2 separate regions of the Homo sapiens genome follow, and region 2 is linked to region 1. Evidence: fine-mapped expression QTL. A gene starts in region 1. The other region holds a variant in brackets. All regions are shown on one strand. Distances are from middle to middle. Region 1 holds the start of ALKBH3 (alkB homolog 3, alpha-ketoglutarate dependent dioxygenase). Region 2 overlaps TSPAN18 (tetraspanin 18).

The links.
Region 2: its variant is fine-mapped to the expression of ALKBH3 in cerebellar hemisphere (GTEx, PIP above 0.99).

Annotation. Positions count from the first base shown.
Region 1 is chr11:43,877,694-43,883,071 of GRCh38, forward strand. ALKBH3 (alkB homolog 3, alpha-ketoglutarate dependent dioxygenase) reads left to right here and starts at 3,138. Exons shown (of 10, transcript NM_139178.4): 1 at 3,138-3,486; 2 at 4,890-5,038. The coding sequence starts at 4,960. LOC105376644 (a long non-coding RNA gene) reads right to left here and starts at 3,044. Exons shown (of 3, transcript XR_001748200.2): 1 at 2,989-3,044; 2 at 290-383. RefSeq lists an enhancer at 2,924-3,123.
Region 2 is chr11:44,773,916-44,779,293 of GRCh38, forward strand. The region is part of intron 2 of TSPAN18 (tetraspanin 18); the gene reads left to right. Among named protein-coding and RNA genes, the nearest start is that of TSPAN18-AS1, 40 kb to the left of the region's middle. RefSeq lists enhancers at 223-997, 2,962-3,463, 3,464-3,963. The variant G/T (reference allele first, on the strand shown) is at 2,367.

The sequences.
Region 1 (5,378 bases):
GGGTCCTTCCTCCAAGAGATGTGGCTTCCCTGTCAATCAAGAGGTTTGGGGTCGTGATATGACTTGTCTGGAAACTAGGTGAGAGATATGTCTATCCAGTGTGGCCAGGTAAGGTTTTTGGCTACTAGACATAGACTTTTTTTCTGTTAGATAGATCAAACAATTCTCTAGTAGGCTGCCCATCTGTTTCATTCCTAGGGACACCATGGCCACTACCAAAGATCCTTATAGACCAACATATTCTGATTACTGGTATGTCCTGGCTTCTGTATTGGATCAATGTCCTTACCTTTAATAATTAAGTGCTGCCACTTGGCCTCATCATCTCCAGTAAAACCAGGGGACCCAACTCAATGGTGGCATCTTCCATGATCACACCTGGCCTGCAAAGGAGAGCAACCACAGAGCTTTCCAAGGATGCAAGTGCTCCCTTGTCTAAAGTATTTCTCAATGCTTTAGAAAAAGGAGCATCTTCTGGATCTTGTTGTAGGATATAGTTTTTGTGTTTGTGTCTATTGCACGTGGGTCAGGGTCACATTTGATAAATTCAGTCCAACATTTCTACCCTTCTCAGTCTTTGGGTTCCCGCCTCTACATCGTGCCTTGGCATCTCAGTAGGATTAACCATAGACTACTGTTGAGTTAAATCTTCAATAAATCCACCAAATAAGCTGTTAGAGTCATTTCCAGTTGCATGAGTCAACACAATGTCTGTAAATGCACTCTAGTAAATGCCTCCATATAATTGGCCTGATATAGTACTATATACTGCCCTCCTTAGTTTAAAACAGTTAGAATCCACTTCCACACATTCCATACATTAGCAAAGTACGTGTAATTAGTATAGTTCTTTCAGCGTGCAAGCTGTTTTATCCTAGATCATAGTGTGTAGCAGCCTACCTGGAGCATTAATGAGGTTTGAACCTAGTTAGGGTCTAGTGGCAATGAGGCAGAAGAAGGGGAAGTAAATTCTGCTGGGTCTTGTAGAGAATGAGCTTCCCTTTTGAAGTCATCTGCCCCAGCTGAGGGCTTAGCAGTGTCTTCAAGCAAAGAATGACTAGTCTCCTCAGACTTAGGAGGACAAGCTACTTCCACTGCCAAGGAAGGCTCAGGGTGCCATGGGTGTTCAAGACTGTCAGTTATCTGGGTCTAAGCAGAGTGCTTATTTCAAATTTTGGGATTCCATTCCTTCCCAATTGATGCCTTAACTTTCAGAAGAGAAACTAACCTGGTAATTCAGCCCACAGGGAGTAGTCAAACACTGTGGGCCACTGTGCACTAAAGAGCCAGCTGAGAGGAGCACACTGGAACCAGAAAAAAGAGCCCCTTCCTCCTCTAAAGTTCCTCCAGTACCCTCCACTGATGAAGCTCACTGTCCATTGAACCAAAAGGCAAGGGAGAAACCTTCCAATATTGCAAACAGGGTAGTGAAGGGTGGGTTTGGAATGGAGACTCAATAGGTTGATAATTGGCAACACACTTCGCCTTCATTCCTTCTCCCATGGTCTCTACCACCACCTCCTGATAAAAACTCAAACACTTCAAATAGAAATAAGAAAGTCAAGACCCTAATGAGGATGCCAAGACCATTAAGAACATCTAATACTATATACTCGCATCGTCTAGGGTAACCAACCATCTCAGTTTGCCCAGGACTGTCCTGGCTTTAGCACTTAAAGTCCTGTGTCTTGGGAAACTCCTCAGGCCCATACAAACCAGAACAATTTGTCATCCTACATATGTCCTAGAGGTTTTCAAAATTTTTGTGCACCAGAATCACTTGGGTGCTTGTTAAAAACGCAGGTGATTCTGTTAAACAAAAAAAAAGCAGTAATTTCAGATGCAAGTAAATCATGGATTGATCTTTGAGAAATACACTACGTAGAGGCTGAAGAGGTGTCAATCACTACTTTTAGGAACTCCTCAATCCAGACTTCTTTGTTCCTGTTCCAAAACTATAATCATTGAAAAGAAAGAAATAACATATTTTAGAAGATACAGCCAAAGTTCCTGAGCCAGAAGCAGACATTGACAAATTAGTTGATGGGGGAAAAAAACTGTAGTGTGGCCTTAGCATTTTCTCTCCTTTCAGGTCTAGGATAAATCATTTTTTTCCTTCAGTGTCACAAAGTATAACAAATAATAATGAGTGCTGTGAAAATGGATTTGATAGTAGCAACAATATAGGTACACATTGATGAGGTGTACCTATAATGAGCTTCCTGAAGGTAAACACTCATATCAGGCTTATTTTAAAGATTTCCACAGTGACTATACTTTGGCGGATCTTAGAGAATGACTTGCATAAAACAGTCAATTCAGTGCTACTTTTGCTATTTTCATACTGTAAAGTACATGGTTTAACATGACCATTTTAAAGATGTTTCTCATGAGCTCAAATGGGGTGAGCTCTTTTTCATTTTTTGAGTTTTTGTTGTGTTCCAGGCATTGTGCTATATTCTTTAAATGCATTATCTCACTTAATCCTCCCAAAAAGAGCGATACCCATTTTAAAAAGAGGCAGAGTACTTGCCCTAGATTATACAACTAGTAAGTGGTGGTGTCTGGGCCAAAATGTAGGTCTGTTCACTCAAGCAAATTTGCTTAGCACTGGAGAGAGCCAAGGTGAATTAAGGCGTGGTCCTACGCCCTGCTGTAAATGCTGTGTTCGGAGGTGTGCACAGGCTGCAATAGGAACACAAAGGAGGCTCATTTCAGGCTCTCCGTGGTTTTTAGGATAAAATGCAAATCCTTTTGCCTAACACATTATAACCAGGTCCCCCAAACTCCTCTCCCTTTATCTAGTCCCACAGGGACCCGGTCACTCTTTCTGCCACAAAGATGCCGATGCTTGGACATCTCCAGTTTCGAGGAACTCACGTAGGAGACACGCCTTCACTTCCACCTTTGCCAAACCCCGACCCCTTCACACCGCTCCCCTGCACTCTCAATCCCTGTCCGCTGCAACACATATCCCCTCATCAGCACCTTCGGTGATTAGGCCCTCCAGGCGCGGGGGATGTGGGACTACCCGGACTGAGGACTGCGCACCGGAAGTAGTGGCGGCGCTGCGTAACGTCGAGAGGAAGTGCCTGATGCCGCGGCCTGTGATTGGGAGTTGCTGGAGTCGGTGCTTCACTCTTAAGGTTCCGATCACAGACTGCGGAGTGGGTCAGGGGCTGCGAGGGCTGCCCCAAGTCCTACCGGGTTTGCACGGGCGCGCCCGGCTCCGCCCGCAAGTGCGCCTTCCTGACTTACTGCTGGGTGCGCGGGGCTGGGGGTGCGAGTACCACCCCTGAAGTCTCTTCCTGGGCGACCTCCGGGGCCTCATTCTAGGCCTCCTTAAAGAGAAGGATCTAAATTAGGAAAAGGAAGTGCCCTTATCCACGACCAAGCTCTTCCACCTGCGGAGCTCGCTTAGTCTGCACCTCAACCGTGCGGAAAGTGACTGCCCTGTTTACTGAGGAAAAACTGGGGCTCAGAAAGGTGAAGTCATTTGCCATGGGCCATGCAGCTGGGAAGTGACAGATCTGGATTCAAAGCGAGTTCTGGCTGGCGCCAGAGTCCTTGTATTTTACAGCACTGGTTCTCAAGCTTTATGTGCATTAAGAATTCCTGGGTTGAGGGTGGCGTTAGTTAACAAATTCTGGGACTCTACAAATTGAGTAGATCTGGGATGGGGCTCTGGAATCTATTTTCAACAATTGTTCCCTGGCAAATAACATATGGCTCCCCAGTGAATGGAGCAAGAAGGTGAGCAAGTCGTATCCTCTGCGGGGACTGTAGGTAATTGTGTTACGCTTTTAGGGCCTCAATTGAGAGAACATGTCAAACGGGAGCTCCTGGGATTGGAGAATTGGTATTTGATTGTCATTAACTCTTCTGGGCAGATGGCAGCCTCTGCGTCTCTCCACCTATTAAATGAAATGAATTACATGCTTATCATCTGGGGGAACTTGTTAAACACACAGATTCCTGGGCCTGGCTCAGCTCTACTGAATCAGAAGAGGTGGGAGATGGGACCTGGGAATCTATAGTCTAAGCAAGCTATTAATATAAAACGAGCTTTTACCTTTGAGAACTTGAGGTGTGAAGCTTTCTTAGGTAGAAGCATAAAGAAATAGATTACAGATGTGGAACATGTGGCTTGAATTTCCTTGTTGTTTTGGTAGCTGTACGTGCTTCTGCATTTGCTGTAGGCTAAGCTTTTACTGGTACAACTGTCAAATTAGTATTATTAGCCATTATGAGGTGGATTTATCCGTTAGCTGGAGACAGGAGTTTAATATAAGTTGAATGTTAATCTGTCTGTTGTTGATTTCCTGAGTGGCTTTGGGTGCATCATTGAACTTTACCGTCCACATACATACCTGCATTGTGTCAAATCTTACACTGCTTGTTATAAAGACAAATACCTGTATCCATCCTAAATCAGATTTTCTGAAGGTGGGCCATAGGTATTTTGAACAAACTTCCAGGGAAGTTTGATGCAGCCAGTGATAATGGAATATATGCTTGGAAACAGTCTTAGCCGATTTCTCAATGTCCATGTAGGTGAAAATGGGAATAGTACAGTTTCCTTATATTCTACTCTTGGGGACTATTAAGAGGAATGTGGTTTATAATAGGTCCTAATTTTAGAATTTCTTAAAATGCACTTTCTTGTGAAAGAAACAAAAGTACTATGGTAAGATTACAAAAGGTGAATGCTAAAGCCAGCAGCCCCAAATGACTAGGCTTCTTGAATGAAATGTTGTGATGACATAAACTGATTTTACATGGAAGCTCTATTGCCATTGAGAGTCTTCTGCCTGAAATTAATTATGCCTTAGGAGTAATTGTTCACAATCCTAACTAAAAGCACTGTTTTGTTTTGTTTTAATAAACAGATACCATGGAGTAGTTTGAAACAGGAACAAAATCTTCTGAAAGCTCGGAGCAGAAGCCTTTTTGGTCAACATGGAGGAAAAAAGACGGCGAGCCCGAGTTCAGGGAGCCTGGGCTGCCCCTGTTAAAAGCCAGGCCATTGCTCAGCCAGGCAAGAATCTGTAGGGATTTTGTGTGTGTGTGGATATGGACAACTCTCATTCTCTTTTATTTATATCCTTTTGGTTTATAATGGACTTCCATTTCAATTGACGTCAAGGAATTGTTTAAAATGTGGCTGATATTTTGTCCGATTTTGTTGATGGTGAGCTAAGGGTGGGTCTTTAATGTTCCTCATATTTAGTCCACACCCTCAAACCTTTCAGTATCTTCTGTTGACTTTACCAGTTAGTTTCTACATGTCATAGAGATCATCTCCAAGTGGGCTTTATTGGCCCTTGCTCAGTAGAAGGTGCTGAGAACAGACTTTCCCCTGGTTTGAGGCTGTCCCC
Region 2 (5,378 bases), 900 kb after region 1:
AAAAGCTTCATCTCAGAGGCAGTTTGGAGCCTGCGAGGCTGCCTCCCTCCCGGTCCTGTGCTCCTCAGTCGGACTCCCACCCTCAGCCCCTCTCTCTCCTTCCCTTTCCCTTTCAGCAGTGTAGCCCATGGAGGCAGCTGTTCTAATTAAAAATCTCATAAATACCAGGAGATAAGGATCCAGGGGTTTTGTTTTTTATTTCTGCCGAGACTCCCCAGAGAGTCTCTTCAGTAGGAAAGGTCCCTTTGGAGCTGAGATTTTTCTCCTGGACTTCAAAGACAGGGCTTCTTAGGAACAGAACATCTGTTTAAACTGAACTTGAACCAAGAGGCAGGCAGGCATGTCCCACGGGAGAAGGAGGGGGCAGAGCCCAGGGGTGTGGTATCTGCTTTCTGTCCCTGGGGGAAGCTCCTCAGACAGGCTCATTCCTGCATCTCACAGTGTGTCCCCATGCTGGGCAGCTTCTCTTAGTAAATGCAGAGGAAGTGATGGCAGGTGGCCCACAGGCCTGGGGCCAGGCTTTGGGCTGACTGCTGTCCAGATAGCATCCAGGCTCCTGACCTCAAAACCTCTCTATTCAGGAGAGGTAGCAAGGAGACCTGGGGTGACAGAGTTGGCTCCTTCTGCCTGGAGGTCCCTGTGGTCCTCAGAAGTCACCTTGCAATTGGGGACCTCCCAGCTCTTGGCTTTTGCATGGACAGAGCCTCCTTCATCCTCCCTTCTTCCCTCCTTATTTCCCTCCCTTTCTTCTTTTTTTCTTTCCTCCATTCACTAGGCATCCACTGGGGTTCAGAGATGAAAAACTCCCACTCCCTGAGTTCGAAGGACTCACCACCTGATAGAACAACCAGGTTGATCTCAAAAGATAAGAAAAGTTGAGCACTTTGGTTGTGTGTGTGTGGCTGTTCTTGTTAAGACAATAAAACAATTCAGAGCTTGGAAAATGAAGGGAAAAGAAATCATTCACTTCCTCTCTTAGGACCAGAGCCTCCTTCGTTTCCTGCTTTTGTTCACACTCAGGCATGTGTTCAATAGTTGACACCAGAAAGTCCGTTCAGTTGGGCTTCCTGCTTTTTTTCCCCATCTCTCCTGGCCTTACAGTTTGTGAGATTCCTTCCTGGGCATCACAGGGCTGGAGGGCCCCTACTGTTGGACACTCAGCTGTGTCTAGTGTCTGCTGTCACCTGCATACCTCCTGGGAGGGGTCGCCAGGTACAGCAAATAAAATTAAAGGATGCCCAGCTAAATCTGGACTTCCTATAGACAATGACTCAATTTTTAGCATAAATCTGCCCCAAGCAATATTTGTTCCATGTACTATTTAGGAAGAATCACTGAAAGATTATTTGTTGTTTATCTGAAATTCACACTTCACTGGGCATCCTGTATTTTATCTGGGAACCCCGTACCTGGAGTATCTTTTTGCACGTGTGTAGTCAATGCTGCTTTACTTAATAATAGGGAGAACTATCTGGCTAATATGTTCCTCTCCCCATTTGTTGGGAACACTCTTCCTAACTTGAATCGCTCCTGTTCCTGCCCACACTTCTGGACTGCTCTGCAGCTTAGCGTACTTGGAGGTCACCGAATCCCTATAGGTCCTCTCCAGGCACGTTTCATTGCCAGCCTCCTTCTGGGAGCCTCCGGTGACTGCAAAGGTTTGGTTTGCTCCCTCTAGTGGCGGGGGTGGGAGGTGTACATTTGCACTCCTCTTGGGCCTCTGGGGCTGCTTTCTCCAGCGTCCGCCAGCATCTTTGGCAGGGATGGAAACAAGGATTGTGTTCTTGCCACGCTGGAGGGAGCAAGGGCTTGAGGATGTTGCTCCAGGCTGCTAACCTATAGAGGTCGATGACATCTTTCTCTCCATCAATGAATTTATTTTTCATTCCAAGGCAGCTTTCAGGGTGATAAAAATATAAAGCTAAGTGGCAGACGATTTTTTTATAAAAGTGATTGGAGGCTGGGAAGACAGGGTGTTGCCTTGTGGTTAAATGGATTTTCTGTTTAACTGAGGGTTAAGTAGAAAACTCGTTTTGATTCAACCTCTGTTGTTGCCAATCTTTCTAAAATGTATTAGCTGCTCCCTGGTTTTCCTAAGTGCACCATAATGACCATAATTGAATCTCTCTGCTGGCAGAGGATCCTGTGGGGCGTCTGGGCACACTGTTGTAAATGTCAGTCTTCACCGAGTGGCCCAGTTATTGGGCTTTACAGCCTGCAGTGCAGGCTGGTGTGCTCTGCAGTGGCCTTCACATTCGCTGTCTTCTCATTCTATCTGCCCAGCCACCCTGGGCCGGGACTCAGGAAAGGAACTAGTAAGACCACTGTATAGATGTAGAAACTGAGGTCCACTTGGGGAAAGATTG[G/T]CCCGAGTCACATCTGGCTGGTGGAGGGGCTGGGACTGAAGCCAGCAGAGACAGCTGTGGTATTGGCCCTGATTTAAATCCTGGTTCTCACTTGCTGGCTGGGAGACCATTAAGCTTCACGAGCCTTGGTTTCTTTATCTGTGAATTGGGCACGATAACCTTTCCCTACAGAGCTACTGCTGGGGTTAAGGGTGAGGATGTGGGTGGGCTGCAGACCACAGCCGTCATATATTTAAAGGGAAAATAGCACCTCTCCTGAAGAAGAAATCAACATACCAGTGCTGGGACCCTGTGTCCAGCTTCTTTCTGCTCTGCCGTCCTTCTTCTGAGTGTTGGTGGTTTTACAGTCAGAACTTGCAGCTGGAATGTCTGGGTTTGAGCCCTGTCTCTGCCCCCGACTCTCCGTGTGACTACAGTCTGGGCCTCAGTTCCCCGTCTATAAAGTGGGGATAATGATCGAAACCTGCCTCCTAGGGCTGCCATGAGGATTCCAGGGAAGGTAGCTGAGGAAGTGCTGGGTCAGGGCTGGCCATTGTCATCCTAGGACCTGGTTGAGTGTGTCTAGTTTCACCATGCTTCTCTAGATTTGGCTTATATTCTGAGTGTTTTAAAGGGATTGGGTTTGGGACCCAAGCTCCCTTTTGGTGCCCCAGGAGCCTGCATGGGCAGCCTGGGGAGGAGAAAGATACCCCCTCTCACAAGCTGGCTTCCTGCACTGTCTGGCACTTTACCCCTCTCTGGGTGCTTCCCCAGGCCTGGTTCTAAAGAAAGATGTTAAGAGAGACCTGAGGGTAGCTTAGGAGCGGACCTAGATGGGAGACTTCTGCCCTGCCATGGCCCCTGAAGTAGGGTACCCTGCCTGGGGGATGCTGGCCCTCAAATAGCTTCCCTATTTGGGAACTTTTGTGCTCCCCCATATGTCATACATTTCTAGCATCTCAAGAGGTGTTTGTTTTTTTCCATATCAAGGGATCCATGGAGTGAAGAGACCTATGTGTGACCTCTGAACCCTTTATGGGGGATTGGGTTGGGGGTGGGGAGGACACCCTGCCAAGGTGAGGCCACCTCATCTGGCCTCTGGGCTGCTGGCTCAGCCACCTCCTGGGTCCTGCAAGCAACTCTGCTTCAGCTCCCGGTCACCAGCACCTACTTATGCCAAGCTGCTGCCTTGTTCTCCAGCTCACCCACTTCCCAGGACCCCTCCGGAATTCTGTGGGGATGGGGAGGTTGCAGCTAAGTGAATAGTCACCCTATTATTTTAGGAGAGGAACAACAGCCTGTGTGCAAAGCCCCTGGGTAGGGCTGGTTTATTTATGCATTTGTCTTTAATGGGAAGGCTGAGAGAAATTGCATGGTTTGTGAATATTTACAGGCAAATTACTACAGGGAGGAAATGAATTCATTCTCTCTCCTCTCCCACTGTTAATAGATCACACTGTGGTTCCCTGAAGCCTGCCTCCCACCTCCCCCCCTTTTCTTTCTTGCAACTCCTTGTAGTCTTTATGCCAGCTCCAGGAGGGTGTCCGGGTAGACGTGCCAATTTAATTTACCATGCAGTTATTGAGCGCTAACTGTATGCCAAGCCCTGGTTCAGGGACTAGGGATACCCAGGTAGGCACCACATGTGTGGGTTCTGTCTGCGGGGCTCTGGGGCAAGCTGGCTCAGGAGAGAAGGTGCCTCTTAAAGGATTTTTCCCCCCAACAGAAAGGATACCCTAGGGGGTAGAGCACAGGAGAACCCTTGGAGAGGTTGAGCAGATGGGAATTATGCTCCAGGTGGGGGGTGGGGCAGTTAGTCTTCTGGTGTGGTTAGAGCACCCATGGGAGGAAGAAGGAGGTAGAACTAGAAATGGGGGCTGGGCTGGGTTCTTTCTAGTTCTGAGGTGGGGAAGGAAGGTGGGGAGAGGGGAGAGATTGCCCAGGATGGTGCAACTTGTGTAGCTAGCCAGAAGGAGCACACCTCTTGTTTAAGGGCCTGAGTTGGCAAATAGTAGCCTCTTATGGGGAGAGGGGAGTTTCTCCCTCATCTCCCCTTTCCTTGGGGCCAAGAGGTGTAAATGGGAGGTCTCTGGTCTGTCACTCCTCCCTCTCTTTTTCCCCGCAGACATCACCAATCAATTGCAGCACTTTTGTTGGTTCCAGAATCCTCTGGAAAACAAGCTAGGCAGGCACTATCTATTGATTCCAGCTGGCCTTCTAGAAGGAAGGTGAAGGGCCTTCTAGTAGGTGGGTGGCTGGACCTTAGGGTAGCCCCATCAATGAATTTGCAATGGAGGAAATCTCTTTGTGTCTCAGTTTCTCTACCTGTAAAATGGGGAGAGGGATGGCTCACTTGGTCTCTGAGGACTTTCCCAGTGCTAGCCAGCCAGCATTTGTTAATACCCGCATTTATTTAGTCTTTCCATTAAGCGTGTGTGCACTTACTCTGGCTGGTGCCAGGTGGGGCCCTGGGATACACAGGTGATCCTGGCAGCTGAGACCTGGCCTCCTGAAGCTGACAGTCCTGGCAGTCTGTGGTTCTTAGAACCTCAGGTGTTGAGGTCAGCTGACACCAAGGGCAGGGCTGTCTTGATTCTTCCAGATAGATGGCACCCAGTGCAGCCAGCTGTCCAGTGGCTGGAGGTCCTGGGGATCTCTGGGGACATTAGTCTTGGTCTCTGGGCCCACACACCGGGCATCCTCCCAGGATGGTTAGATGCCATTAGGCTCGGTCTATGCAGTAAGAGCCACAGCCAGGACCCAGGTCCTGCTGAGCCAAGTGAGGAGCTGTGGCCACTGGGGATCCTGAAAGAGCCCCAGGCCACATGTATCTGTCCTGGGAGCCTGCCCCAGGATTGACCCCCACAGCCCTTTTTGGCAAGGGAGAGGCCTCCATTGTGCTCCGTTTCCTTCTAGGTGCGCATGTTCCTCCTCAACCATTCCTCCCCACCCACTCCATGGCTGTGTTCTCAGTTTACCCCAGGTCATGTCAAGTGAGATCAGCCCTTTACCCTCGGGATTCTGAAATAGGGC